3 linked regions of the Homo sapiens genome follow. The protein of the gene in region 2 purifies or fractionates together with the protein of the main gene of each other region. This does not show direct contact. Each region holds a gene or a part of one and is shown on either strand. Other genes may lie near its edges. The genes, in order: KPNA1, XRN2 and KPNA6.

Region 1 (11,224 bases), on a different chromosome or scaffold from region 2:
CTACTACTTACATTGTTGCTTTGTGGACTGAATGTAGGCATTCATCAGATGCTAGTTTTGAGTGTTCTGTTTGGAATTAAAAAATAAAAATAGTAACAAAGTACAGAAATTTATCAGGTAGAGAAAATAAGAAATATGTACCTGAAAGAATAAAATTACAAACAGATTAACATATGCAGTAGCTATTTTGGTGAAGTTCATCATGGGCAGGTTATTTCAGGGAGACAGAAGCACATTTGTCTTGTAGGTTTTTTCCAACCTCCAAAATTCTGATTCTAGAGTACTATGATTTTAATTATGCTGTCACCAGATGGTAAAAATAATGAAGTACTATAGTTATTTGAATAAGCTTTATGTTCAAATTCACATTTATAGTTATTAATTGTCTCTATATTTTATAGCAAATATATTTTCTTAATTGAAATAAGCCAGGCCGGGTGCAGCGGCTCATGTCTGTAATCCCACCACTTTGGGAGGCCAAGGCAGGTGGATCACAAGGTCAGGAGTTCGAGACCAGCCTGGCCAACAGGGTGAAACCCCGTGTCTACTAAAAGTACAAAAATTAGCCAGGTGTGGTGGCGTGCACCCGTAATCCCAGCTACTTGTGGGGCTGAGACTGGAGAATCGCTTGAACCCGGGAGGCAGAGGTTGCAGTGAGCTGAGATCATGCCACTGCACTCCAGCCTGGGTGACAGAGTGAGACTCCATTTCAACAAAAAAAAAAAAAGAAGAAGAAGAAATAAACCATAAACATATATATTTTATTATGCCATCTTTCATGAGAAAGTATTCAGGAGTATTTTGCTCTGTTAGAGAAGCGCAGAATTGCTGCTGTCCCTTTTTAAAATTCAGCATAGCTATTTATAATAAAATTAATTACCAACCTCCTAGCAGTTTCTTCTTCCCCACATGAAGAGTTATCTTGAAAGAATGTCACAAAAATATTACAGTCCAAATTACAAAAAACAAACTGACTTTATCACTTATAAAAGACATCTATCTGGCTTCTGCTGCTTCTTGTTGCAGATACCAGATTTGGATGCAAGAAACAATTAGAATATTTTAGGAAATATCTTGGCCGGGTGTGGTGGCTCATGTCTGTAATTCCAGCACTTTGGGAGGACAAGGCAAGCAAATCACTTGAGGTCAGGAGTTCGAGACCAGCCTAGCTAACATGGAGAAACCTTGTCTCTACAAAAATTAGCTGGGCGTGTTGGTGTTCTCCTGTAGTTCCAGCTACTTGGGAGGCTGAGGTGGGAAAATGGCTTGAACCCAGGAGGCAGAGGTTGGTTGCAGTGAGACAAGATCGTGCCACTGCACTCCACCCTCGGAGACAGAGTGAGAGACTCTGTCTCAAAAGATAAAAAAGAATGTTTTAGGAAACATCTAGAATTTTAGGTTGAATATAATCAAATGTTAATACATATATAACACATGTTCTTAATGAAGGATAAGGATTATTAACTGAAATTAGAGAAACATTCATCAAAGAAGTGAAACTTACTATTTGTATAGAGAATTGGCAGTTTTGGAGGGGAGAATAGCATGAGGAAAAGTGAGAGAATGCAGTGTTTTTGGAGGTGGCAGGTCAGTCTTGCTATAGGTCGTTCTTTCACAAGGATGATTAAGTAATCGACTGGTGAATACTGGGATGAAAGCCTCAGTCTTGGGTATTGGGAAGACTTGGCCTGTCTAAGCTCACGAGTGACACAAAGTAAGGCCTGTGTCTAGGTTCATTATTTTTCTGTATGGATGTTCAGTTGTTTTAGCACTGTTGAAAAGGTGGAATCCTTTCTCCATTTAATTGCCTTTGCTATTCTGTTAAAGATCAGTTGACTGTTTTTGTGCGGGTGTGTTTCTGGGCTTTCTATTCTTTTTGTGTGGGTCTGTGCATGAATTTGCAGTTTATCTGAGAAACCAAACACACAAACACACAGTTTATCTGAGAAACCACACACACACACACACACACAGTTTATTTGAGAAACCACACACACACACACACACACACACACACTGGTAGTACAGTATAGGAAGTCCTCACTTAATGTCATTGATAGGTTCCAGGAAACTTTGACTTTAAGAGAAACATTGTATATATCAAAACCAATTTTATCATAGGCTAATTAATATAAATCAGTTGAGTTACTACGTGATATTTCTGGTCAAGGAAACATCCCCAACCTTCAAAATATAGACCCAAAAACCTTCTAATATTAAACATTGAAACAGATGTCAGCTATACATAAATGTAAGAAAGATTAATAAAAACAAGTATGATAATATCCAATTTTTGGTGAATCCGTGAATGATGGCAGTAGTAGTGGTGGTGGGTTAAATCAAAGAATACAGATTTACAAAACAAAAGTTATGAGCATCTCCTACCATCCTGCCACCACACAATTAAAAAAGCAACAATAACATATAAAAAAGGATTCCCAGCACTGAAGAATTTAATGAATGAAATAAAAATACAGTTGAGATATTCAGCAGTGGATCAGATCAAGCAGAAGAAAGAATTACTAAACTTAAAGATAGGTCTTTTGAAATAACTCAGTCAGACATACATGAATGAATGAATGAATGAAAAAAATAATTAAAAAAGAAAGCCTAAATGGCATCTAGGATACCATCAGGGGAACAAACATTCAAGTATTGTGAATGTCTGGGCCCTCTATTTTGTTCCACTGGTTTTTTGTTTGTTCTTTCACCAATACCACACTGTCTTGATTAGATTATAGTAAGTTGATAATGTCATTCCTCCAACTTTGTTCTTCAGTATTGTATTGACTATTCTGGGCCTTTTGCCTTCCCATATAAACTTTAGAATCAGTTTGTTGGTATCTATTAACATGCTGGGATTTTGTTTGGGAGTATCACATTGAATCTATAGATCAAGTTGGGAAGAATTGCCATCTTAACAATATTGAGTCTTGTCCATGAGCATGGAATATTTCTCCATTTTTTTTTTTAGATCATCAGTTTTGTAGTTTTCCTCATATATATCCTGTTGTACATATTTATTAGATTTACACTTTTTTGATGCTGATGTAAATGAGATTCTTTTTTTTTTTTTTTTTTTTTTTGAGACAGAGTTTCGCTCTTTCGCCCAGGCTGGAGTGCAGTGGCACGGTCTCGGCTCCTGCAACCTCCGCCTCCTGTGTTCAAGCAATTCTGCCTCAGCCTCCCAAGTAGCTGGGAATACAGGTGCCCGCTGCCATGTCTGGCTAATTTTTGTATTTTTAGTAGAAACGGAGTTTCACCATGTGGGCCAGGCTAGTCTTGAACTCCTGACCTCAGGTGATCCACCCGCGTTGGCCTCCCGAAGAGTTGGGATTACAGGCTTGAGCCACCATGCCTGGCCTGTTTGCTGAGTTTTTATCATGAATAGGTATTAGATTTTGTTAAATGCTTTTTTGCATCCGTTGAAATGATCGTAAGTTGATTACATTGATTCATTTTTTTAAAATGACGGATCAGCCTGGCATATTTGGAATAAATCCACTTGGTATATAATTCTTTGTATACATTCTTGGATTTGATTTGATAATGTTTTGTTGAGGATTTTTGTATTCATGTTCATGAGACATATTAGTCTGTAATTTTCCTTTCTTATGATGTCTTTATTTAATTTTGGTATTGGGGAAGTGCTGGCCTCAAAGATTGAGTTAAGAAGTATCCCCACTGTTTGTTTTCTGGAAGAGATGGTAGAATACTAGTATCGTTTTGTCCGTAAATGTTTGCCAGAATTCACCAGTGTGAAACCCTCATCCTGATGTTTTCTATTCTGGGAAGTTATTAATGATTCAATTTATTTAATACATGTAAGCCTGTTCACATCAGTCATTTCTCCATGACTGAGTTTTGGTGGTTTGTGTCTTTCAAGAAATTGTTCATTTTATCATCTGAATGATCAAATGTGTGAGCATAGAGTTGTTTGTAGTATTCCTTTATTATCCTTTTAATATCCATGAGATCAAGTGATGATTCTCTTTCATGATATTAGTAATTTTGTCTTTTCTCCTTTTTTCTTGTTTGGCTAGAGATTTATTTTTATATATTTTTGAATTCTTCCTCCCCCACACAAAAAAGCAATATGTGAGAAAGAAATAGATTAGCACTAGCAGTAAGTTTCAAAATGACCTTACCAAACATTCACATAATGCAACTGGATTCATTATCCCTGCCTCTCTGTACTCAACTTGAGAAACCAGAATGATAAAAAATGACATGACTATTTACTGTGAATGTGATACAGTAATCATGTCTCTGAAGTTCAAGTATGATTAATCTTGATTACATACGGTTATACATTCTGCTTGAATTAAAGGAAAAATACCAGTTCTAGAATCCTCTGACATTTGTTTATTCTTCCCACAACTTACTTTACTAAAATTCTAATCATCTTTGAAAGATTTGGCTTATCAGGCTTGTGCTGGCTTTTAGCACCAAGAGTGTCATGTTTGAGAGGTGTGGCTATCTATGGAAACAAAGATGAAATTACTCAAACCTATACTATTTTGATGAGTCGCTCATTTCAAGGTATTAATAAGTAAGTATTCCTGTTTTTGGAATGCATAAATTGTGAAGAGAAAAGAATGGAGAAAGGTGCCAGAGAACTGGTTTGGGATAATTTATTTAGAGGGTTTTTTGTTTTTGTTTTGTGAAAAGGTATAGCTTGTATGGTTGAAAGAGTGCTTGTTTTTTGTTTTTTTTTTTAAGTCTCTGCAGTGAAGTTGAGGATGACTTGCTCACTAATTTCATAAGTTTAACAAAATTAAAAGTTTTGTTTGACTACATTATTCTTTGTATTTAGGTACCTAGTAGAACTGGGTTGTATCAAGCCGCTCTGTGATCTCCTCACGGTCATGGACTCTAAGATTGTACAGGTTGCCCTAAATGGCTTGGAAAATATCCTGAGGCTTGGAGAACAGGAAGCCAAAAGGAATGGCACTGGCATTAACCCTTACTGTGCTTTGATTGAAGAAGCTTATGGTAAGATGCTTTGGTTGAAGAAGTTTATGGCCAAGAATGAATTGGGTCATAGATAGAGTTCAGTAAAAACAATACTACTACTGCTAGGCACTGGATGAAAAGAGGACTGTTAGGAAATTGCTGCTTCTGCAGACTGGATATTACTTGCATATGTATTTAAGATGTCAGTTTATAATACTAGCTTTCAGATGTAATCCCAGCAGTCATTTCTGTGCTATTATAAAATACTTATGAGATACAAATAATCTTTCTTTACATCAAGAACAGAGATATATGACAAAATATAGTTTAGGAATATATAGTTATGGAATTTCCAATATTTATTGAAGTTTTCAATAAAGATTTTCCTTTATTCTTCATTTTAGGTCTGGATAAAATTGAGTTCTTACAGAGTCATGAAAACCAGGAGATCTACCAAAAGGCCTTTGATCTTATTGAGCATTACTTCGGGACCGAAGATGAAGACAGCAGCATTGCACCCCAGGTTGACCTTAACCAGCAGCAGTACATCTTCCAACAGTGTGAGGCTCCTATGGAAGGTTTCCAGCTTTGAAGCAATACTCTGCTTTCACGTACCTGTGTCAGACCAGGCTACCCAGTCGAGTCCTCTTGTGGAGCCCACAGTCCTCATGGAGCTAACTTCTCAAATGTTTTCCATAATACTGTTTGCGCTCATTTGCTTGCCTTGCGCACCTGCTCTCTTACACACATCTGGAAAACCTCCGGCTCTCTGTGGTGGAATACCCTTCTAATAAAAGGGTAACCAGAACGGCCCACTCTCTTTTACGGAAAAATCCCTAGGCTTTGGAGATCCGCACTTACATTAGAGTTATGGGAATATACACATATTAATGTGGCTCCCTTTTTCTTGTGGGGGAATAAAAGAGGACTCCTCCTCATTCCCTTTAACATGGGGGAAAAAACTGACATTAAAAGATGAGACTAAATCTTTATCTTGAATTTTACACAACTACTTACGACAAGGGAGATGTTTAGACCTGTTGTGTATACTTCAGAGTACTTTTCATGAGTTCTTCCACAGTGAACCCTTGGATTACCTGGTGGCTTTTTCTAGCCAGATTTGCATTAATCCTTACTGAGATTGGATGGTTTTCTTTCCTCTATTGGCGCCATTCTTCAGATATTAAAGTTAAACCATCCACTCCCTCACCTTCAGCCTTCAGTGAATGTGCTTTCTAGTTGTCAGGAATGCTGAAGAATTAACACTTTGACTCCTAAATGTGATACTGGTTTGTAGATTCCCTTAGAGCAGAAAGGAGAGGGGCACATATTAATTTGTATCGCTTTTGCTTCTCTTTGGTCTTTTGTGTCTTAGAATTTGGAAGTGGTTCATTTCTGTTGCTGGTATGAGGATTTCGAATACTTAGTAATCGAAAACCATATCCTGTAATTTAATAAAAAAAACTAAGGACGAAAAAACCCTCCAATTTTCCCAAATGCAATCAGTGTAACTAGGGGCTGTGTTTCTGCATTAAAATAAATGTTTCAGGCTTTGTGGTCCTGATCAAGGTCCTCATTAAAAAATTGGAGTTCACCCTAGGTGCTTTTCCCCTCTGTGACTGGCAGATAACACATACTTTTGAAAGTAACTTTGGGATTTTTTTCTTAGGTGCAGCTCGATTCTAATCTTTTCATGCTGCACACGATTCCTTTAATGTAGCATCCTTATCTGAAAGAAATAACCATCTTCTCAACATGACCTGCTTAACCCAAATAAGAACAGTGATCTTATAACCTCATTGTTTCCTAATCATTTTATTTCATCTCCTGCTAGTACTGTGCCGCTTCCCCCTCCCCCCACACAAAATAAAAACAGTATCTGCCTTCTGGCTCATTTAATGATGACTGCAATCTGTACCTGCAAATGGCGCTTCCAGTACTGTGTTCAGTGATCCACATTTGTGCTTGGACTGGAATGAAAAAATACGCTTAATTGCCAAGACAACTGCAAATGAGTTCAATACGACTTCTCGGTGCTAGTTGGCCATCTTGACTCAATGTTGGGATACACTACCAGAGAAGATTTTTTTGTTGATGTGCTGTTCAAAGTGAATTCTGAAGGAAAAGGTTGCTCACCTCTGTTTCAGAGCATACCCTTTTAAACCTTTTTAGACTTGTCCTCTTCTAGAATTCATTATAACCCCAAAGTGTAAAAACTATTTGGAAGTTGCCCCTGACAAGCTATTATACATCTCTGGTAAATCCTGCTGAATGTAAGGGATATTCAGAGCTTTTCATACCTCATCATGATGTTATTTAAGCAGCCAACTTATGTGACCTGATTTAAACTTTTAAAAAATCCACTTCATTCAAACTAGAAAGAGTCAAAGACAAAGGACATTTATCAGCCAAGAGTGTGACGCATTCTTCGCATCTAGTCTGTAGTAGTGTCTGTGCTCTGGGATGGATACCGTCTGATGTCTGTTTGTTATTGATGGCGCAGCCACTGCAAAACTAGTCAACTCCCATCTATAACTGTTACTTTTTCTAGTGCTGCTTTGTGCTGAGAGAACATTTTAGTTTACTGCACTTGACCTGTAAAAGACTGATTCTTTGTAATTTTAGGGATAAATTAGGTGGTTAATTTAAAGAAGAAATTTCAATGTTGCCTTTACATCACATTAAAATATAACTTCTTTCAGAAGGATAATAGAAGCACTGATTCATAGTAAAAATCTTGTTTTTAGCTTTGACTTTTTTGTGGCTGTTTTTTAAAATTGTAAATTACTAGTAACATGTCATTTCTATAGGATGTTTTAAATTATGTACCTTCCATTGGATAGTTAAAATAATTTCATTTTATAAGCCAATTTGAGTGGGAAAGATACAAAGCACACAGTTGTCTCCCCACATTAGGAAGAGTAGTGTGCATTCAGACATTCGGAATTTTTGCTAGTAGTTGGAGATGTTTCAGTGAGTGAATTAAAACAAAGTCTATTTAACTGACGTGATCTATTTTGTGTCTAAAACAGAGGAATTTATCTTGTCCTAGAAGTTCATGAACTATAAGATCTAAGTTTTTTTTTCTTTTTTAACAATAAAATGATTTTTTCTTAAAGTATCAAAGTTGGAATTGGCTAAAAGTGAAGTAGCATAACTCAGATATGTTGGAACTTGGTACTGAAGCAGGCTTTTTGGTAACAGAAATGACATTTTAAGGGGTAACTGTATATCCTGTTTTTAGTTCTTTGCCTCTCAGATTCTGTTAACTTAGTTTAAATTCACTGAATACCCTACCACTAAGGCGTTGCTCATTACAAAAGCATGTTAATTTCAATACAGGAAAACTCTTTTGTAGTTTTATATATGGATTGGGGAAAGTGACTTTGTTTTACTTTTCCTTTTTATTCCCCTCCATCCTCCAAACTTCCAATCTATATTATTTGTAATGAGAACTTTGGTGGGGGAAAAAAAGCATTAAGAGAATTTTGGATGTAAAGGCATCTGGTATCTGATGGACCAGCAGGTAGATGTGGTTGGATTGAGAAATTTTGGGTAAGGTAGATGATAGAAGAAAGAGATTTTAGGAGACACAGTTCTCTGTGGAACACTTTCTTTCATGTTCCTGTAACTAATTGATCAAGACCCTTTTAAACGCTTATCTTTGTCAGTTCCGCTTTTGAAAAAACTATTGCCCTAGGATTGTTTCTTCCATATGACAGATGAAGGTTATTGGCTCTGAGTCATTTTTGGCATTATCGTCACAGATAAAAAGATTGGCAATTAATCTCATAAAAAATCTGAATTATTCCAGATTGCTGCCGATTTTTGCCTAAGAAACAATATGTAAGTATATTTTATAAACCAAACTTTGTCAACCAATTCTATTGTACGTCTACCCACAGGCAACTTTGAATTTACTTCTCTAGTGCTAAATAAACATTTCAGCGATTTAATCCCCCAACTTGGGGGATGCATTATGAAAAGGTTTTCCTGGAGTCAAGGGGTTTTTCTTTCTCGCTAGTTTTGTGAAAATTTTTATATCAATAGGCAAATCATTATAACTTTTTAGGGGTTGATGGTTTTTAAGTATATTGGAAATTGTGGTGTCTAAGGATGATGTTCAGTGAAGAAAAGGGATCCACTTTTAGAAACCAGCATTGTTTGCTTTCAACTTTCATACTGTATGCTAACTCCTACGTTCCAAAATGTGCTCATTTGCAGACACAGGTATGCCTATATACATGGAAGTCTCAAATCTGAATTTTTATCCATCTCAATATGACCATTTCTCTCTGTTGTGAGCTGAACAGATTAAGTATATATCTGCCAGGTTGGGAAATATTTTGGTCTATCTTTTCCTGTCATCAGAACTTAATTTAAAAAAATTATCAAAGGTCAGATGTGACTACTACAGTAAGTTGGCTATCATAAAGAATATTCCATAAAATGTTTTATCTGCCATACAAAATTACTGGGTTTATGGCCGGATGTGGTGGCTCATGCCTGTAATCCCAGCAGTTCAGGATTACAGGTTATATACAGGTTATAACAATGGATACCAGGACATCAGAATATCTGATAAAGCAAATATTTATATGCTAATTTAAAATATCAAATTGCTACTGGACATAAAATACATCTGGAAGCTTGGGGTAAGAAGAAAGAAAAGAAGTGTTCCGTTCTGTTTTCAACTAAGGGTAAACGAAGTCCCAGAGTGTTTTCCCTGTAGGTCAAATTAAGGTAACATGTCTTTATTTGATCATCTATTGTACACCAGATACCTGGCTAAGGGCTTTCCTTTTTTCTCATGTAGTCTTCCAAATGTTCTTTGATAATTGTCACTATATTATAGATGACAAAGTGAAGACTTACGAGAAATTACTTTGCCCCAAGGTTACAACACTTAGATGGCTGTCCAAGGGCGGGGAAGAGCCCTGCAAATTCTGTGTCTTGAAGAAAGCAGTGGCCACGCAGTAGTTCCGTGCCCAGGATCTCCCAGAACTAGACTTGGCAACCACAGCTGGGCCAGCCTTTTTTGTTAGACCATTCTTCCTGACTCCTGCTTACCATCAGCACCCTTAAAATGACGAAATCAGGCTTAAGTTGCTTTTAGGTTACACAGACTGGAGTGTAGGCCCTCTCAGGCCAAACATCTTTCCTCTTCTGTGGTGCTAAAATTCTGTATGACCAGACAAGTATGGTAATAGGTTTTTTTTTTTTTTTTTTTTGTGCAAATGATTTTGTGTTTAGTAAAATAATGGCTAAACACATGGATCCATTCAAACGCACAAATGTGGAAAGTATTGACACGGAAGGAAAGGCTTTGAAGAATTACTGCCTCAGGAAGCAGTGCCATGGATGCGAATTTAACACAGTCTACTTCTTCCTAAAGGAATATCATCCCAAGGAATGTCAAAAATTAAAATCACCTTTTAATGTACTGGTTGTTGAGTGTTTCTGCTTTACCTCAAGTCATTCTGACCACTCTACATCCTGCTTCAAAGTGTTCTGACACTTAGATTTGGAATGGCTCTAATGATTCTTTGTACTTGAATGTGGTCTGTCAGGCCATGGGTGAGTGCCTTGCACATAGTAGACATTCAATAAATACTAAATGAAGGAATATGCATGCATCTTTGTGATGTTAGTAAAGGGTGCTTGATAAAAGAAAATTCAAAGGAATTCCCTTATGCTGTTACTTGAAACCAGGATCAACATCTTAAGCAAATGTCTCAACGTGTTTTATATGCAGTTACTTTTCAGAAGACATGATTTGACCTGAAGTTTACAAAATCAAACATTGTCATAGCAGAGGTCTGGTATTTAAAAACAAACAAAGTGTCTTAGAAAAGCTAGTGGCCGGGTGCGGTGGCTCATGCCTGTAATCCCAGCACTTTGGGAGGCCGAGGCAGGTGGATCACGAGGTCAGGAGATCGAGACCATCCTGGCTAATATGGTGAAACCTCGTCTCTACTAAAAGTACAAAAAACTAGCCGGGTGTGGTGGCGGGCGCCTGTAGTCCCAGCTACTTGGGAGGCTGAGGCAGGAGAATGGTGTGAACCCAGGAGGCAGAGCTTGCAGTGGGTGGAGATTGCGCCACTGCACTCCAGCCTGGGTGACAGTGCAAGACTCCATCTCAAAAAAAAAAAAAAAAAAAAAAGCTGATGGGTATATTTTACAGTAAAGAAAAAAATTTATTAATATCCAACCGACGTGGAAGCTGCTGGTTGCCTTAGGCTATTACACAGGGATTTTTCCTTTTTAC
Region 2 (11,686 bases):
CAATCATGCTGAAGGACATGGCATGACTTCAGGAACACCAACAAAGATCCAAAGCTTTAAAATGCCCTCTCCTGCCAGGTCAGCTGAAAAATCGTATTAATTAAATCTGTAACACTATGGTGTCTACCAAATCCCATACTTCCTCCTCTAATGCCAACTCAAGGTGCAGAGTCGGCTAAAGAGACAGTAGAAGCTACTGTAACTCAAGGTTTTTAAACCAAGTGGTACAAAGTATGTAGCAGCAGATCAAGGGATGCCACCATAATTGTTGAAAAAGTAGTTAAAAATGTTCCAATTGACATCTGATCTTCCAGACAAAGCTAGTTCTGTAATTTGAATTCTATATGCAAAAAACTCTTGACATCACATAAAAACATTACCAAGTACTGAAGGCTTTTGGAAAGAATGCTTACAGTCAACCCACTATGTTACATAAAATGACACCCAAAGTTTTAAAAATAAGAGATCACTAGCTACAGTATACAAAGTTGATGAAAACAGAAAATAAGATTCAATGACACATTTTAATGTGCTGGGAGATCATGAAGCAATGTAGCAGTAATATATGTTGTTATCTGCTTAAAATAGCCACATGACTTTTATAAAATCAGTTTCTGAAAGGATTTCCTTGCTGTTTCTAAGAAGCTATTACCTGCTTATTTTGCCCACTGCTGGCCTCCCTTGCTACACCCTGCAATCACCCTCCAATCACTCTGCCTCCAGGCTGCTGCTCCTCCACTCCTATCAGCTCACCAGTGGATCCCAAACCCTGTCCACGGACGAAGTGCCTGTCCATCTCACTGTGACCCCTTGAGCATGGCTTCCCATCTCTTCAGGAATTTCCTTCTACCTCTCTATAACTGGCTCCTCTTTCTCTTTAAATGTCCGTGGTTCCCTAGGCTTCTATTAAAGGTACTTTTACTCCACACAAGCTCCCAGGGTCACACTCATAGTACACTCATAGTTTCAAGTATCTTCCATTAGTTAATGGTTCTCAAATCTCTTCAAAAGACTTCTGCCCTGAGCTTTATACACATTCAACTGCTTAATGGACTTTTCTCCTCTCAGGTGTCCTACAGCCCCCTCACATTAAACATCTCCAAAATGAAACTCAGTTTTTACTTTGTCCCCACCCCAACCCATTCCACCCCTAGTGCTTGCTATCTTAGTAAATGGCACCAGCAAATTCCTAACTGCCCAAGCCAGAACCTGGACTTTTCATGTAAGCGCTCATCCATAATATGCAATCAATTTTCAAATGCTTTGCTATTTTATTTCCTTCTTGTGTTTCAATTTTTTAAGAGATTCAGCTCTCCACAGATCCTACATTCTCCCAACCCTCTGCCCTGGCTGATATAATCCAACCCACACTCCCTACATTGTCAATTCTTCTTAACCTGTCTTCCTGCCTTCAAAACATGACAGCCACTAGTTCAATCCCAATAGACTTCCAGCCTTGGTACCCGCATTTCAAATCCTATTGATTAGAAATGTGTTTGGATTTATATTCAGATTATGAAGACAGAAAAAACATTACAATGCAACTCAAACAGGGTACAATACATAGTTCCACAGAGCAAGCAGCACAACCTTTATAAAATAATCAAAGCACTGACCACTCATGATTACATTAGTGTTGACACACCATAATGATATAAAAACACACTCAAAGAGATTAAAAGTAATCACAGGATCATCATAGCCTATTAGAGACAGGAGCAATTTTAGCTACTGCAATAGAAACACTTTACCTCATCATCCTTTCTCTTTTTAAAAATGCTATCCTCAACTTCACCAACTGCTAACATGATCATCTGTACTCTTTGCAGATTGACATAACCACTTTCTGTAAGGTAACCCTGTAAGTGATAAAATATATGTAAAATGATCTTCTTATAAAAGCAAATACTTCTGTTTTGAAATCATTCAAGAATGAACTTACCCCAGTTTTGTGTACCACATTTTTGTATATGTTAACCAAACGGTCAATTGCATTTTCCCTGTCAGCAAGAGACAAACATTATGCATTAGGACCAGTAGGCACAGTAAAGTCAAGAAGCCTAAAACAGTCGTTTGAAAAGCTACACAAATGCACATACCTAATCTCTAACGATGGCAAATGAGGGAGGAAGTCATTTCCCACAAAGAAGCACATGAAAACCCAGTCATCAATGCTCCTCTCAACATCAAATGTGAATGGTAGGCTGGCCATTGTGAGTTCTCTTTCCAAATACTACAACCAAAAAGGAATGCTGCCATTACAGCTATCAAAGGCACCCTGCTTTAGAGTGCTGATTTCAATGATTATTGCTACATACCTCACGAAGAACATTAAGCCGAAGGAAGATAAACTCTCCTTCTGCACAAGGAAGACTATCGGCAAGTTCATCATGCTGCAAGAACAGGAATGAAGATGAAACAAGTCTACTCTACGTCCAGTAATTTTTTCCAACCAAGCAAATTTTAAGGCTTTTTCTAACGCACAATCCATTTTAATATCACAAGTATTTAATTTTTAAAAGCTCACCAATGCATTTTAAAATAAAAATTACCCATAAAATCAACCACGTCTAGATCAGGGGTCAGCAAACATTTTCTGCAAAGGGCCAGACAGTAAATTATTTTGGCTACTGGGGGACATATATGATCTCTGTTTAATAGTCTTTCATGTTTTATTTTGTTTTTAACAACACTTTAAAAATGTAAAAAACATAGCTCACAGGCCAAACCTGGAGGATTGAAGTTTGCCAACTGATGACCTATACCCAACCAATGATTACCCCTTCCTTGTGAACAGATGTGCATAGATACATGTATACTGTCTTTATTGTATTACATATCTGAAATAATACACTATATTTATCTCTTTTTTCACTTAACGATGTCTTTGAAAGAGGCACCATATTCTTTTTCCCCCCTCAAAAAGCATATGACTCAAGAGGCACCATATTATTGAAACAGAAGCCCCTTTAAAGGGGACTGGACATAACCAAGTGAACCTAAAATACATAAAAAGTGGGAGTAACTTAAAAGTCTTAAGAAGTTGTAGTTCCTTTTAAGAAGAGTATTTCAAACAAATAACTTCCACAAACAAATTACAAGCTATGGGCATTATTATCTATGGGAACTAAGCCTCGTGTAGATATAGGCAATATCAGAAAAAGTGCTAAGTAGAAAGGATGAGTGTGTGCATGTTTTTGAATGCAGGTTTATTTTAAAGTACTTTAAAAGATTCGTCTCTGTCGAGACTGTCTCAAAAGAAAAAAAAAAGAAAAAAGATACATCTCTGTGAAGGGTAACGGTAACAGAACAAGCACATAAAGAACTAATCAACCACAATCTTCTCTTCATCCATTTTAAAAACAAGGTAACTCAAATATTTAATGCTATTTAATTGTATACTTTAAAATGGTTGAAATGATATTTTATGTCATATACATTTTACCACAATAGATTTTTTTTTTTAATGAGGCAACTACCATCTCAAAGTTCTTACCTTTCCCTTCTTTTCTCTTGGCAAACCTTCACAATCTTTGACCTCATGTCCAAACTGATTACAAAGACCACATGGTTTGGGCTTGTTTGGTTTGAATTCTTCTCTAATAATGGTAAAGTTCGGTTCATGTGTGGCAAGGCCAAGCATAATGAGATCAGCTATCAATCAACAATGAGAAAAACATCGAACAGTGAGTATTCTGAGAGAAGTCTTACCATAAACTACTATGAGATGCCAACACAAAGAAAAGCCCAAATGAGCACCCAAATGAGCAGCAAAGCCCCAAAGCTTGACACTTCCTGGCATTTCCCAGTTAACAGGAAGTCCTCTAGATACGTGGACCTACAACATAGACTGCCACTAAGGATTAAACACTTGGGAAATTCTCCATTTTAAAGGTATGGGGAGTTAAAAGGTTGAAAAATGTAAGAAAGAAGAAAAGAAATTAAAGATCATTGACCACAGATTAAACAGCAACTCAATACTAGTTCCCTGTCGAACATAAAATAACCAAGGCATTTTGGAACTTCCAGGTAACCATGAATAATCCATTACTGCACACCAACCCATCAACTTGCTATGGTTTAATCCAAAAGAAGCAAATCCCAAAGAAGAAACTTACCATCTGCTCCACATAAACAATGATGAGTATTTGGGTCATGGTTAGGCTGGGCTAAACAAGAGAGAAACATGTATTTATATTAATATATTATATACCACAAGAATATCACTTCATACCAAGTATTTTCTATGCAATGGCTTTTTAAAAATAGAACATATAATCAAATATTGGTAAGTAAGCTTTACCTCTTTGCCTTCTAATGTAATCCATGATTTTATGTTCTCCTTCACCAGGAGCACTAGCATCAGATAAAATAACCTATAAAAAAATTGTTAACACTTTCAGATTATCCCCAATTTTCTATAGGCACAAAAATCAAAAGAATTATATGTCTCAAGAAAAACTGAGATAAGTGTTACGGGAAAATTTTCTGAATAAGGGTGTGTGTGTGTGTGTGTGTGTGTGTGTGTGTGTGTGTGAAAAACACCAAAACTACTTCACTGAAAATTTTCTGAATAAAGAAGGGGTGTGTGTGTGTGAGAGACACCAAAACCACTTCATTGATTGACTTACTACATGTAATGGAAAGGAATGAAATGTCTGGGTCAGACCTAGCCATCAGAAAAACTGATCATTCACAAGCTCCTATTTTCACTACTATGCAAGGATATAGTGCTGAACCATATATGCCCCAAGAATAATCAATAACACATATCTATAAAATATAATTTACCATTTCTCATTAATAGGGAAGCCAGCTTATGAACCTAAAATTACAAACAAGTTCATTTACATATTATTTAAATATTTGGGAACACAGCCATTTAAGACAGCCCCACAACTTACTAATTTTGCTGTATATTGATATGTAATAATGGAAATTTCCATTTAAAAATTACTTTCCTATATATATTTTTTAAATTATGAATCCCATTTTATAGCTTCATAGTGATGGTAAGAGGACAAAATTGGCTTTAAGAGAAAATTCAGCTATCTAAAACCTAACCATGCAAGGATACCCCATCTCCAAAAACCCTGGAAGCTTTTCTTTCTTCCAACAGTCAACTAGCATTTTATGGGGCAGGGCAGAAGGATAAATAATGTCAGTCATATCAAAGTACAGCCTCGAATGATCACCCTAATCTTTCTGAAGTATCAAAATGTGAAACTTACTGTCAAATTTTTCCACCCAGGGTCATTATTTAAACGATCAGCTATGTAATAGCGAAGGCATTTAGCAAGATTGTCCATGAATTCAGTTCCCTAAAATGATAGAAAGAAATAAATTAACCTATCATTTAAGAGTTAGCAATAGCTAGCAAAGTATGAGACTACTTACTGGTGTAATACAGTTGCTGTCAAATCTTTCTTTTATTTCTTCTGGAGGAAGAAAGCCACCTAGAGAAAAGAGGCAACGTTTTGTTCTCCCCATAAAAAGTGAGATAAATTACTCAACATTAAGCCAGAACAACAAAAACAAAAAGTTCCACTACAAAAGAAAGTGAAGTCTCGTCATCCGAGGAAAAATGTTCCCTCACTGGGAAGAAAATAAGATTCCATCTCTCAAATTTAAATTATTATTATTATTATTATTTGAGACAGAGTCTCATTCTGTCACCCAGGCTGGAGTGCAGTGGTGCAATCTCGGCTCACTGCAACCTCCGCCTTCCGGGGTTCAAGCGATTCTCCTGTCTCAGCCTCCTGAGAAGCTGGGATTACAGGCGCCTGCCACCACGCCTGGCTAATTTTTGTATTTTTAGTAGAGACGCAGTTTCATTGTGTTGGCCAGGCTGGTCTTGAACTCCTGACCTCCAGTCATCTGCCGTCCTCGGCCTCCCAAAATGCTGGGATTACAGGGGTGAGCCATCGTGCTCAGCCTTTTAAATTATGTTTTAATAAGACTGTAAAACAATATATGGTACACAAAAGATATTATATTGTTACATAAAAATTATGAAGTTCTTCACTCTGTAAGAGAATACACACACACACACACACACACACACACACACACACACACACCAGTTAGAGGCCATATTTTTTGATAACAGTTCCTAAAATAAAGGTGCCTAAGAAAAATGAAATTTAAAATGCCGAGTTCATCACAGCTTTACAGGATAAGAAATACAATTATCAGGTAGAGGAATATAAAAATCCTATTTTTTCCTCTCTATCACTATTAGCTGCTTCTCAAGAAACAAGTATATTTCATCACATCTTCAAAAAAAAGACATTCTTAAAATCAGAAACATTGTTATAAATACAAACAGGTTTTAGAGTCTTAATTACAAGTTGCAGCTAAAGGAACTATATACTTGTACACTTCCAGCAAAATTCAAGTAATATAAAATTTATTGTAATTGCAGGCCTGAGCTGGCTATACTATGGCATCCTTTTTCAACTGCAGAGTGCAATTATCCGGAGCCAAGACACTGTGGCTTTTCTGGTCTATTATACCCCCTTAAGTAGCAGAACACCAAACAAACCTGCTACAACCATACCCTACCTCACACACAGGTGTGGTAGGAGAGAACCAGTCCCAACTGGCATCAACACTCCCTGATCTTCCTTTTCTCTGAGGCTTAGTCAGTTCCTACCCATGTAGCCACCAGGAATTTTAAGGCTTTGGGGAACTGCAAAAATGAAGACATCCCACCCTAACCCCTCCAAACTTGAAGGAACCATAAGTACTGTGCCTGCTCCATCAACCTATATTGAAAGTATGCAAATGACTTGGCAACAGCCTGTAAATGTGGATCGAATCACCTCCGGCTTCCTCAGATAGACCTCTGAGTTTCAAAAAGCAAGCAAACCAAAGCTGATTTGAGGAAAATGTTTACAGCACTATAGCTTTCTGACAGCCGCCACAGAGAAAAGTAGTAAAAAATACTTACTATATTTCTATTCTACAGAGACATAAAAGTTTGTTAAAGAGCTGCACTGGCCCTGAGAGGAGTTGACAATCTGCAATCTCCACCAGAATTCCCTATTCCCAAGGCTCCCTCTTACTGGAGAGTTTGAAAATAAACAAGCCTATTAAGCCTATTGGTAGATTTCATGAACTACTTTTCCTCAACAGTGAACACTGGATATTCTGGGATCCTTATTAAATTAAAAGCTTGCCTCTTTGTAAGAAAAAGTTGCCACCACCCCCTCATTCTGCATACATCTTATGAAAAAATCCAACTTCAAGATGCATATTCTTTACCTTTTGCCAATATTTCTTCCCTGACTCGCTGCTTCTCGACTGCTGCTTCCATTCCTTCTTTTGATGCCCTGAACCTCCTTGAACGCTGCTGGTTCATTTTAGCACGTGGTGCCTGAAAATGTATTTCATATTCCATAACACTCATCAAAATATTCACAAATAAATCTGTACCTTATTTTGAATCAGTTGTTCTTATAAAAGCAGTACACTAAAATGGAAGAAAGGTAAGTAATGTGTCTAATAATCCTTTCATGACAGATACCAGATGCTGAGAACTTAAATTTGGACCGAGAACCCAAAAGCTGAGCTCAATCAGGTGAATGAGTGCCACGTCAAATGGACAAACATCCTATGAAGCCCTAGCACTTATACTTCAAGCCCTCCCAGTCTAACACCAGTTCCCCTCGGTTAGGGTGCTTGATTCAGGGCACCCAAGAAAGAAAGCTCACTTTACTCAAAAGACCCAGCCAACATCTGATGAGCAGTTACTACTGAACTAAGATCAGGAAGACATTCTCTATGTCCACACCTAAAAGGAAGAATGGTGTCCAAATGGGATCCACAATGTCTCATAAAAGCAACAGAAAACTATTTCTTTATGTGAAGAATCTCGGTGCACTTCTATTTCCCACAATAAGGTTTATAATTTTTCTGTCTTTTCAATAAGGCATAGCAGTTAGAAAGAAATAATGCCTTAACCAGAAGTACTTTTAAATCACTCTAACCAAATGCAATTTCAGTGGAAAAGCCCAAATAAAGTGAACTAGATTGTAAGATTTTCGAAGTTACTGAACTGAGTTTTGGGGTGGGAAGAAACTGTGAAATATCCTGTTTACATCTAAATGTAAGTTATTTAATATTCTCTTTAAACAATTCCCTTTTCTGTAGAATGAGACCATCTAATGAAGCCCTCTCAAGTACAAAGTTCTGTATCTACATTTATATATAAACAAAAAAATGTGTGTATAAACATGTACACACACATGCATATAAATGTGTACATATTTTATACTTGATGTAGCAGAAAGAACACACTGGAGTAAAGCTAAAGATTTCTTCAAAAAAAATTAGCTGAATATAAACTGAAATGTGCTCTAAACAAGACATATTCCTTTTCTTTTTACTCTTTACTCCATTCTAACTGCAACTTAGCAAGTTATCAGGTAGCTAAGGTTTTTCACTGAGTAAGACGAATCTCACAGAAAAGTTAATCTTCTTGGATTCAAAGTTCTCTGAATTTCCAAAATCATCCCATTAGCCGCTAGGATGCACTAAAATTAAAAGAATCTACTTGCAGATAGCTAAATAAATTTAGAGTTATATCTTACCTTACCCCCCTAATAGAGTTTGCTGGTCATTTATAAAAGGAGCTACTTGGTATTATTATCATAGGTCAGTAACTTACTCCTCTCAAATCATTTTCATGACTACTCATTGCCTATAGGATACAGTCCAAACTCCAGACGGTAAGGCTTTCTCAAGCTTTTGCTATACTTCCCTTCTCAATTCAAACCACCTGTAGTTGCCAAAACATGTCAGTGTGGTCAAAGGCACGGAAAGTGTGTTTACCTGCCACATTTGAGAAATCTGGAAGGTCCTCCCTCCCCAAACCCTGTCCCATCCATCTCCCACCACCACCCACCAATCTCCCAATTATTCTTCATTGTTAAAGAAATGGAACAAAAGTCACCTCTTCTCTATATCCTAACTTCCTTAGTAGCACTGACTTCCTCTTCCCTCAACACCCTGCATGTATTATCTAGTGCTTATAATGCCTATAAATAATTAAGCTCACCCATTTATCTATGCCTCCTTCCCTTTGACAGTAAGCCAAAAGTTCAAAAGCAAGGGCAGTCGCCAACATCCCCAGTATTTCACAGTACTGAGCACAAAATAAGCACAAAACACACACACAAAAAAACATCTGAATGAATGACTGAAGGATGAGGCTTTCTTTCTCAAGTTCATCACTGTCAACATTTTTCATTATTTAGCTGACTTTCATTCTAGACACTGGTAACACAGCAAAAAAAAACAAAATGGAGGCTTCTAATTATTTTAGCACTTACCACTCCATCTATTGCCATGTAGAGAAGTCTTCTTGGTCTTACAATACTGAAAAGTCTGTCAATGTACTCAAAAATTGCAACCATCATTTCATCTTCATTTTTTGGTGCTGGTCTATAATGACAACCAAACAATGTAATATAATATAATGTTTCCTCTGTGATTTGCTATATCAGTGACAAAAATGGGTTACGTACTTGTCTTCAGGATGAGTACAGGGATGGATGATTCCATTCATATCCAAATACAGATTATCAAACTCCACATCATTTGGATTAGGTTTACTGGCATCAACTGGAATCTTTACACCATTGCATTCTTTTGGCTATGAGGAAGTGATAATTAATAGTAGTTTGATTGTTCAAGTCTAAAAATGACAGATCCTAGGCTCAATATGAACTTGTGTTTCATTTCTGAACTGGAAATAAAACACTTCAAGTAACCTTTAAATTATAATAAGTTATTTTATTCCTTAAAGCAAACTGAAGCAGATATTTTATCTGTAGAAAGTGGATGGCTTCTAACACAAGTTATTTTTGACAATGTAGATGTTTAGAAAATTCACAAATCATTCAGGTTGTTCAAGTGAGAAATCATGGGAGTCATCTTAAAATTCATTTCCCTCACCACTCACATCAGTAAGTCCTGTCAAAGTAACGTAAAAAATGCTTACCTACTTCATCTCCTTTCATTCCCACCACCATGAACAACAAGAAGTTACCATCTCTAACCTAAAAGAGCACAACAACCTTCATCTAGTCTACCCCACCTCTAGACTCTCTGGTCTCCAGCTCACTTTCTGCATTGTCAGAGTTCTCTTTCTAAAACATAAAAGTGTACGTCCTTAATCTTACCTAATTTTTCTAATGATTCTCACAGCAGGTGTTTATCAATGAGCCTGGAGCCTTCCTAGTCTCCTATCCTGCCATACTATTGTTGAAGCCCACTCACTCTCTTGTAAGTTCCTGGAAAATGCCTTTTGATCTCTCAATGCCGTCACATGATGCTTCTTTCAGAACACCTTCTTCCTCCCTTGTCAACACCCACTTCCTGAAAAATTACTAATTTCCAGGGTCTACACTCAAATCAAATGTCACTCACTTTATAACACCTTGTACATATCTCCCAAGAAATTGTTCCTTCTGAATTTCCTCATAATTTTGCTTATTCACTTGTAGCACTTCCACTGTTTTACAGTTAGTCAATCTACCCCAGCTACATTGAGTTCCTCAAAAGATAAGGGCTTACTCACTGCCAGAGATACTCAATTATGTTTTTGTAAATGTTACTTCCTTTGTTTTTCTCTTCCAGAGCCTCAGCAAGAGATTAAGACTATGAGATCTAATTTTTACTATTAACAATAAAAGTCACTTAAAAAAATAACAGTTCCTCAAGCACATATAAAGCATCACTTGTAACAGCAAAAACTGTAAGCAATTTAAAAGCCCATCATGTACATACTACATCATGGATGAAGCTCAAAAACATTAGGTTAAGTGAAAGAAGCCAGTCATGAAGTACCAAGTACTATACAATCCCATTTATATGAAAAGTCTAAAATAGACATGTTTGCAAATATAAAAAGTAGATTAATGGTTGCTTCAGGTGAGGGTGGAGACAGGGGAGGGAGATGGGTAGCAACTGCTAATTACTTTTGAGAATGAAGACCCTCTAAAATCAGATAATAGTGATGATTGCACAGCTCTGTAAATATACTAAAAACCACTGAATCATACACTTTCAGCAGGTCAATTTCATGATACACAAATTATATCTCAATAAAGCTGTTAGAAATAGAAATTTAAAATCAGGTATGGTGGTATGTGCGGGTAGTCTCAGCTACTTCGGAAGCTGAGGTGAGAGGATTGCTTGAGGCCAGGAGTTCAAGGCTGCCGTGAGCTATGATCACACCACTGTATGCCAGCCTGGGCGACAGAGTAAGATCTCATCTCTTAAACAAGTAAACAGATCAACTTAGAGGAAAGGAAACAAGCCCATCAGGAAAAGAATAAGCTCATATAACATCCATATACTTGTGAGATGCAAGTGAGATTGGAAGAGCTAGAGCTAGATGGTCACAAACATACTAGGCCAAAAAAAAAAAAAGAACATATACAGTATACCACTTACAGAAAGTTATGAATAAATAAAACAGCATTCAATATTGCTCAGGGACGAATACATATGCAATGAAAGCATGGTGAAAAGCAAAGGAATGATAAACACCAACTTCAGGATATTGACTGTCTTTGAGAAGGAATCACGGGAATGCAACTGGGCTTCAAGTTGCACTTAGAATTGGAGGGAAAGAATAACAAAAGGGATTTAAGGCAGAACAGAGAAGAAGCTACTA
Region 3 (7,694 bases), on a different chromosome or scaffold from region 2:
TGATCATATGACTTGTGTTTGTAAGCACTAACATACCTCAGGGAAGGAAAAATAGGTAAATGTTTCACCTGCCCATAGAAAAGCACTCACACTTCCCTCTCCTTCCTTCTTACTACTGTAGGCTTGGATAAAATTGAGTTTCTCCAGAGCCACGAGAACCAGGAGATCTACCAGAAGGCCTTCGACCTCATTGAGCACTACTTTGGTGTAGAAGACGATGATAGCAGCCTGGCTCCCCAAGTCGATGAAACGCAACAGCAGTTCATCTTCCAGCAGCCTGAGGCCCCCATGGAGGGCTTCCAGCTATAATATCTGCCTCCAGGGAGGGGAGGGGATGGGAAGCACCACCAGCCAGCGGAAGAGCAGCCCTCTGGTGGGCGGGAAACCAGTGTCCCCACCATCAGCCACCACACACCTCTGCTGCCCTGGAGACTGTGCTCTTGACCTGCTCCGCCCCCTTCCCTGGAGGGAGCACCCTCTGGACAGACAGAACCATCTGAGGCTCACCTTTGGGTTTTGTGACAAGAAGGGGACGTGTTGGGTTTTTCTTCCTTACACTATATTTTGGCTGCACACATGTCTTTAACCCAGGAGCCCAGGGGTAGACAAAGGAGGACTAAGGTAATCAATTTGCACCTTTTTTTATTTTTATTTTTTTTCTTTTTTTCTTCAGTGGTGACTTCCTTCCCTTTATCTTTTTTCATTCTTCCCGGTCCTCTGCCCTGATCTGTGTAACTCTTATCTTGGGTACTTGAGCAGACGGTATATTCCAGAGGTGGGAGGTGGGAGGGGAAGGGAGAAATCCAAAACAAAGTGTTCTTGCTCTGACAGAATATTAATCTTGTACGCTTGGATTGAGTTATTTAATTTTTTTTTCTTTTGCACATTTTTCTTGTATTAAGATTGCTCTTCCCAAGAGCCACAAGTTCCTGGTTTTAGTAAACCCAGCTGCCTGCATTGCCTGGGACTAGAGGCTGGGGAGGCTACCATGAAACAAAGGTCCCTCCCTCCCTCTGACTCTTTGCCCAGACCTCTTTAGTTTGGGGGATCCTCCTCACTCTCCTGAAGTGTCTCAAGTATACCAGTGGGAGTGCAGGGGAGGAGCACAGGCCTTCAGATGGGGCTTCCCACGTGTAGCTACTGATCCCATATTTCCTACTCACCTTCCAAATGGTGCGACCCAACTTCATTTGTTTACTTGAAAATTCCCCCTCGAGGTTGAGAGAACCTCTGAGGTGGCTGTATTTTCTCCTAAGCTTGAGATAGGGGGCTGTGGTCCTTCCTTTCTCCTGAGGAGAAAGTCCTTGCTCTGGTGACCTGTAAGTTGCAGAGGAGGGTGGAGTGAGAGTGTCATGTATTGGGATAGTCAGGGATCCCTGCCTTTGGCCTTTCTTCTTCTTCTTCTTCCTCTTCCATAGTTGGATCATGTATATTTTACTTCTAAAGGAGAGAATGTCAAAAAGTTCTGTATTTTTTTATATTCTATATATTAGGTAGGTCAATCTTAATTGGTCTCAAGAGGAAGAACTGTCTGTCATTTCGGTAAGTAGGATACTGTGAGGAAGACCAAAAAGAGATATGGATGCTTCCTCGCTCAGGAGGCCTGAGCTTGGTCCTTTTCCTCTCTGCTTGGATTCTGGACCACCACCTGGGACCAACCTTCAGCTCTGGAACCTTCATAAAGCAGGTCAGCGTGGCCTGATTGTCCCAGGACCTGAAGGGAGCAAGGATGGCCTCAGGGCCTGGTGAAGTCTGCTACTCTGTCCTTACTGCTGAACATCCTGCTTGTATCAGGAAACTCAGAAGCAGTTTGCCTTGTCAAATTCAATCTCAATGGCCATTGTCCACATAACTGATCACCCATGGCTGCCTCTCCTATTATCTATTATCACTGAAACTTAGTAGCCTGCTTTTTTTTTTTTTTTTTTTAGAGCTATTGCGTATCTTCCCTGTTTGGGATCCTTGTACCTGGTTTGGGTTTTCCCTTCCTTGTGACAATTATAATCCAGATGCCTCTTCTTTCTGTTTGAATTACGGTAGTGCATTGCCTTAGTGGCTTGCCTGTGCCTCTGGGTGGATTACATATGATAGTAAAGCCCACCTGTTTGGATGGGAGTAGAGGAAGTTGGTGTAGACCAGCTGTGGAGCTGAAGGCACAGTCTGCCCCACCCCCACCTCCCCACTGTGGTTAGTCAGAGGCATCCTGCTCCAAGCTCTGCTTTTCCTTCCTCTGAAACAATGCCATTCTTGCTTCTATTGCTACACATCTCCTTCTGGCTCAGGTGAAATCCATGCCCTTCTGCTTATAGACCTAAAGTTCAGGTACTTATTATTGGCCATTGATCTTGAATTTGCCCTCTCCTAGTGCTGCAGTCCCACTTCAAAGCCATTTTCTGAGGAGGATGGTTTAGGTCTGGCAATTGTCCTTGAAAAATCCCACCCATGTTGTACCACCTTGGTGAGTCATATGCCACTCATCAGCTTGGGAATGATGGCTGCCAACTCCCAATCTCCCAGGAAGGCAGGGGGCAGAATCTTTTTTTCACTTGGCCTGCTACCTCCATTAAAAAACCATTCTCTTACAGTTTAAAAAAAAAAAAAAAAAAAAAGCCTTCCCCTACCCAACCTCCGCCCATTGTTCTCTTCCAAAGGGCAATTTAGTAGGATCTACTTTGTACATCTCAAGTAAGAGTTAAGTCCCTGATACAGGGACCAGTTTCTTAGTGTAAGACATACACATCCTGCTTGTCCAGCTGTTCCTCCAAAATCTACTTTGGCTTCAGCTCCGGGTCCTGTACCAGATGGAAAATGTTTTTGGTGATCTGGCTGCTGCTTAAAGCCAGTTTTCCCTAAGAACTCCAAAGGCTAAAGTCTACTAGGGGCAGAGTGTGAGGATAGATTTCTAATCAGAGAAAAGTGGCCTCCAGGAGCTTTCATTTATGTCTTCTCCAGACCAGGTTTTCCTGTTATCTTCCTTTAATCCCCTTTCAACCAACAGGTGAAGTTCTTCCAGCCCACAGAGGTAGTAATATCATCTTTTCTATCTCCTCCTCTCCTTTGGCCATGTAATGAAGCAAAATATTATTTATTTAGCCCAGGCTTGAGAGCCACTGTTTGTGGACAGTCTTCATCTAGATTCCATACCCTGGCCTAGGCGAGGTAAGGCTCTCTGGTTATTGCCAGGATGGAGCCCCTCTACCCCAGTCTGCTGTAGGGAATACCCTAATTAGTTGAGGCATGCTTTTGGAATCCTGGCATGTTGGCATATGGCTGGTCTATCCTTTTTAAGATCTCTGGTTGGGGGTATCTGGATATGGATTAGGAGGGACAAGGAGCCTTTTTCTTGGCTAATGTTTTCCAATACTTTTTTGAATGGTGCCAGCCCCTCCAGGCATCCCACCCCCAAATCATCATCTTTAGTACTAACAGGGTGTCTGGTCTTAGAAGCCTCCCTTCAGATCCCAGCTGACCCTGGTGACTGCCTGGCCTTGATGTTGGCTGCAGCCTTCTGATAGAACCACATGGATTCCACCCACAGCTGGCCAGGCTTGTTACATGGGTCAGGGAATACAAATGGCCCCCCCCCAGGGAGCAGGTGTTGGCCTCAGTTTTCAGGGACCCTTGGTGTTGCTCCTTACCTAGAGCCCATTAATCTACCCCATCAACTCTCTGCCATGAAAGCCATCTTCCAGGAGCCCTGTTTTTTGGAGCTGAACTGCACAGATTATAGCTGCTATTGTACTTAAATAAGGGAGAGGAAAAGAAGGTTCTCAGGCACAGACTTTCTATTTTTCTCAAGCCAAACCAGTTTAAAATGTCTAGCAGAATGAACTGTATTTCCATTTCTTCATGTCTACCTGCCTTCCCCCCACACCCTAAAGTTGTACTTGTTTCTAGCAAACTAGAAGGAAAAGATAGGAAAGCCTGGCACTACTAACCTCACCTCTCATACACCTCTTTGAAGGCCCCAGCTCTTTTGTTCAGGCCTCTCTTCTCCCCTAGACTCACTCAGCTTGGTATCCATCATCTTGAGCATTCTTCAGTAGATTCATCTAGGGTTCAGATTCCAGACTCTCAGCTGAAGACAGGGAGCCAATTTCCCCCAGGTCCCTGCAGGTAATCCAGGGACCCCATAGGGAGAACAGGCTGACTGGGGCATTAGGAATGTTTGTACCTCTCTGCTTCCCTGGCAGCCTGGGGAAGGGTGCAGGGCTCAGTGCGCTAAACCATGGTAAACATCTTCAATAGAACTACCCTAGAATTTAGTGAGTGTGAGACTGAGATATTGCTCAGAATAAATTTATTCCATAGCCATTTAGGATTGCATGTTCTGGACCAACCTTGTCCAGTATGTTTTCTGTTTGAGCTTTTTCATTCTTTTGTTAAGCCAACAAGTTGAGAATTTGGCCCTGCTGGGATCCATGTAGTGGGCACTAGCTGCTCTTTGGCCAAGGCCTTCATAAATGATTCAGTCTCTCATTATCTGTCCTCTAGCCCCACACCCTGATTTAGACCGTGGCAAAGGAAGAACTTGAGGTCAAGACCAACCAAATCTGTGAATTAAAGCTGTTATTTTTTTCTCTGCAAGGGCGCTTTGCTTCAGGTCTGGGCTATGTGCAGAACCTAAGCAGGCTGTGAGAGTTAGAAGAGGCAGTATTACATGTTAGGCCCAGAACACCATGGGAAAAGGTTTATGTAGTGTATCTTAGTGGCCTGCCTAGCTGCCTCTGGGCCAGGCTGACTTCTGATGTCCACATTAGCTCGTACCTGAACCCTGTTGCTGAATGCCAGCCCTGTTCTCCTGTAACTATTATATACGCCATGGCCTGGGGGGCATTGAAGGAAGTAAGCTCTCAGAGATCCTAACACTGGCTGGGAACCTCTGACTCAGAGCATGTCTTTAAAGAGTCCACATCTGGCCAGGCGCGGTGGCACATGCCTGTAATCCCAGCACTTTGGGAGGCCGAGGCGGGTGGATCACGAGGTCAGGAGTTTGAGACCAGCCTGGCAACATAGTGAAACCCCATCTCTAATAAAAATACAAAAAATTAGCTGGGCGTGGTGGCAGGCGCCTGTAATCCCAGCTACTTGGGAGGCTGAGACAGGAGAATCACTTGAACCCAGGAGGCGGAGGTTGCAGTGAGCCAAGATCATGCCACTGCACTCCAGCTTGGGTGACAGTGCGAGACTCCATCTCAAAAAAAAAAAAAAAAAAAAAATCCACATCTTCAGCTGGGCGCGGTGGCTCATGCCTGTAATCCTAGCACTTTGGGAGGCTGAGGCGGGCAGATCACTTGAGGTTAGGGGTTCAAAACCAGCCTGACCAACATAGTAAAACCCCGTCCCTACAAAAATAAAAAAATAAAAAAAATAAGCCAGGTGTGGTGGTGGGCACCTGTGATCTCAGCTACGTGGGAGGCTGAGGCAGGAGAATCTCTTGAACCTAGGAGGCAGAGGTTGCAGTGAGCCAAGATTGTGCCAGCCTGGGCGACAGGGTGAGGCTCTTGTCTCAAAAAAAAAAGTCCACATCTTCATGAACCCTCAGACTCTGGAGTTGGGTGTCGGCTTTTTTAGCCAGCTTTTGTGGGAATTGCCTTTGACCTATTAAAGAAGGAAAGTGGGTAATGGAGTCCCAGCCACTCAAGAGACTGGATATCCCCCGAGAATGGCTTGGGTTACCAGCTATGGACCCTTGGAAGATGAATCTAATCCTTCTCACTGGTTTTTCTTTGCAAATTCATTTGCTTTTATTTTTCTAATAACAATAAACTCTATTTTCCATGTTCTCAGGGCCCCTGGGTAGACAGACACAGCTTGATTTCAGAGCAGACATAGGCGAAGAAAACATGGCATTGAGTGTGCTGAGTCCAGACAAATGTTATTTATATACACATCCAAATTTGAAGAGAAAATGTATTTCTTTAGGTTTCAAACACTGTAATAGATATAAAGCAAAAATAAAAACCTGTTGCAAAGTTCTAAATTGTCTTCTTTGGCTTGGAGTGACCCTAGACTGGATTTGGGGGAAGAGAATGAGGAGGTGTTTAAATTTGTAGCTTAACAGTGGAAATAAGAGTTGTACCAACCTGCACCTGCTCTAAAGTTTTTTTCATCGACTTTATTGAAATATAATTGACATACAATAAACTGTACATATTTAAAGTATATACACGTTGATAAATTGAAACACATATGCACCCATAAAACAACCACAAGATAGTGAATATATCTATGACCTTCATAAGCCGTAAGCTTCCCGCTTGAGAATCCCTCCTTTCTGCCCCACCTCCAGCAACCACTGATCTGTGGCTGTCACTGTAGTTTAGTTTGCATTTTCTAGAGTTTCTCTAAATGATTTTGACTTAGTTTCATCAGCACCACTCTACAGCCCTTTGAACCTTTTTTTTTTTTTTGAAACGGAGTTTTTTATTCTTGGCATCCAGGCTGGAGTACAATGGCGTGATCTCGGTTCACTGCAACCTCTGCCTCCTGGGTTCAAGCGATTCTCCTGCCTCAGCCTCCCAAATAGCTGGGATTACAGGTGCCCGCCACCACGCCCAGCTAATTTTTGTATTTTTAGTAGAGACGGGGTTTCACGTTGGCCAGGCTGGTCTTGAACTCTTGACCTCAGGTGATCCGCCTGCCTCCGCCTCCCAAAGTGCTGGGATTACAGGCATGAGCCATCGTGCCCAGCCTGAACCTCTTAAGATCAAATAGTTCACAGACTCCTCCCTTCAGTTTAGATAATTCCTAAAGCAGAGATTACAGACAAGCAGCCAGAAAGTTGATTGAACCCACAGGAAGGTTTTGCTTGGCAGAGCGTGTTTAAGTTTGAATTAGTTGCCAACATTTTTTTTTTAAATCAAATGTCTGTCTTGAAAAAGACTGTCCTGAAGTCTCCATTTTTAAAAAGAGGCCAAGCACTGTGGCTCATGCCTGTAATCCCAACCCTTTGGGAGGCCAAGGTAGGAGGATCACTTGAGGCCAGGAGTTCAAGACCAGCCTGGGCAGCAAAGTGAGATCTGTCTCTACAAAAAAATTTAAAAGTTAGCTGGCTGTGGTGGCACATACCTGTAATCCTAGCTACTTGGGAGGCTGGGGCAAGGGGATCACTTGAGTCCAGGTGGTCGAGTCTGCAGTGAGCTATTATGATCACTGCACTCCAGCCCCAGCAGCTGAGTAAAACCTGTCTAAAAAACAAAAATACAATCTGGCCCTACCCGGCCTGAGTTTCTGCTTGCTAACAATGTGCAAGAGCTGCTGTATTTTACTGCAATCACCACCTCTCCCTCACTCTGGCAGGTGCTAATATTGTTGCTATATATTGTTTATAGCAAAGGAGAAAGTAACTTGTTAACCTATGTTTCTGTCAATTATTCTTGCCTGTTCTCATTACCCAACTGGCCCCTCTAGGCTATTGTTGACCCTTCTACTACATCCTCTATCCCTCACCCCATGCATACATTTTTATGTTCTTTATCTCACCTAGAACACCCTTGTTATATGGAAATCTATCAAGGCCTGATTTATATGGTGCCTTCTCAAGAGATTTCCAGAATGCTTTTCTAGAAATAATCAGGGCCTTGGTTTCAGGACATCTAGATTCCAACCTTTCTGAGCCTCAGTTCCATCATTATACTAAAAATTGAATATCTCTTATCCAACATGCTTGGGACCAGAAGTGTTTCCAATTT

What was found.
Region 1: the proteins of XRN2 (region 2) and KPNA1 purify together in Homo sapiens (affinity purification with mass spectrometry; 4 studies listed by BioGRID and IntAct, with this or other methods). This does not show direct contact.
Region 3: the proteins of XRN2 (region 2) and KPNA6 purify together in Homo sapiens (affinity purification with mass spectrometry; 2 studies listed by BioGRID and IntAct, with this or other methods). This does not show direct contact.

Annotation. Positions count from the first base shown.
Region 1 is NC_000003.12:122,421,309-122,432,532, reverse strand, and holds the end of KPNA1 (importin subunit alpha-5), read left to right. Parts: intron 1-11; exon of another isoform or gene 12-66; intron 67-4,816; coding exon 4,817-4,995; intron 4,996-5,360; coding exon 5,361-5,548; 3' UTR 5,549-10,631; downstream 10,632-11,224. UniProt on the Homo sapiens protein: Functions in nuclear protein import as an adapter protein for nuclear receptor KPNB1. Binds specifically and directly to substrates containing either a simple or bipartite NLS motif.
Region 2 is NC_000020.11:21,324,251-21,335,936, reverse strand, and holds part of XRN2 (5'-3' exoribonuclease 2), read right to left. Parts: intron 9,659-11,686; coding exon 9,531-9,658; intron 9,448-9,530; coding exon 9,336-9,447; intron 7,379-9,335; coding exon 7,267-7,378; intron 5,457-7,266; coding exon 5,398-5,456; intron 5,322-5,397; coding exon 5,232-5,321; intron 4,377-5,231; coding exon 4,304-4,376; intron 4,170-4,303; coding exon 4,119-4,169; intron 3,655-4,118; coding exon 3,497-3,654; intron 2,394-3,496; coding exon 2,319-2,393; intron 2,234-2,318; coding exon 2,100-2,233; intron 2,001-2,099; coding exon 1,943-2,000; intron 1,860-1,942; coding exon 1,752-1,859; intron 1-1,751. UniProt on the Homo sapiens protein: Possesses 5'->3' exoribonuclease activity. May promote the termination of transcription by RNA polymerase II.
Region 3 is NC_000001.11:32,170,586-32,178,279, forward strand, and holds the end of KPNA6 (importin subunit alpha-7), read left to right. Parts: intron 1-121; coding exon 122-309; 3' UTR 310-5,978; downstream 5,979-7,694. UniProt on the Homo sapiens protein: Functions in nuclear protein import as an adapter protein for nuclear receptor KPNB1. Binds specifically and directly to substrates containing either a simple or bipartite NLS motif.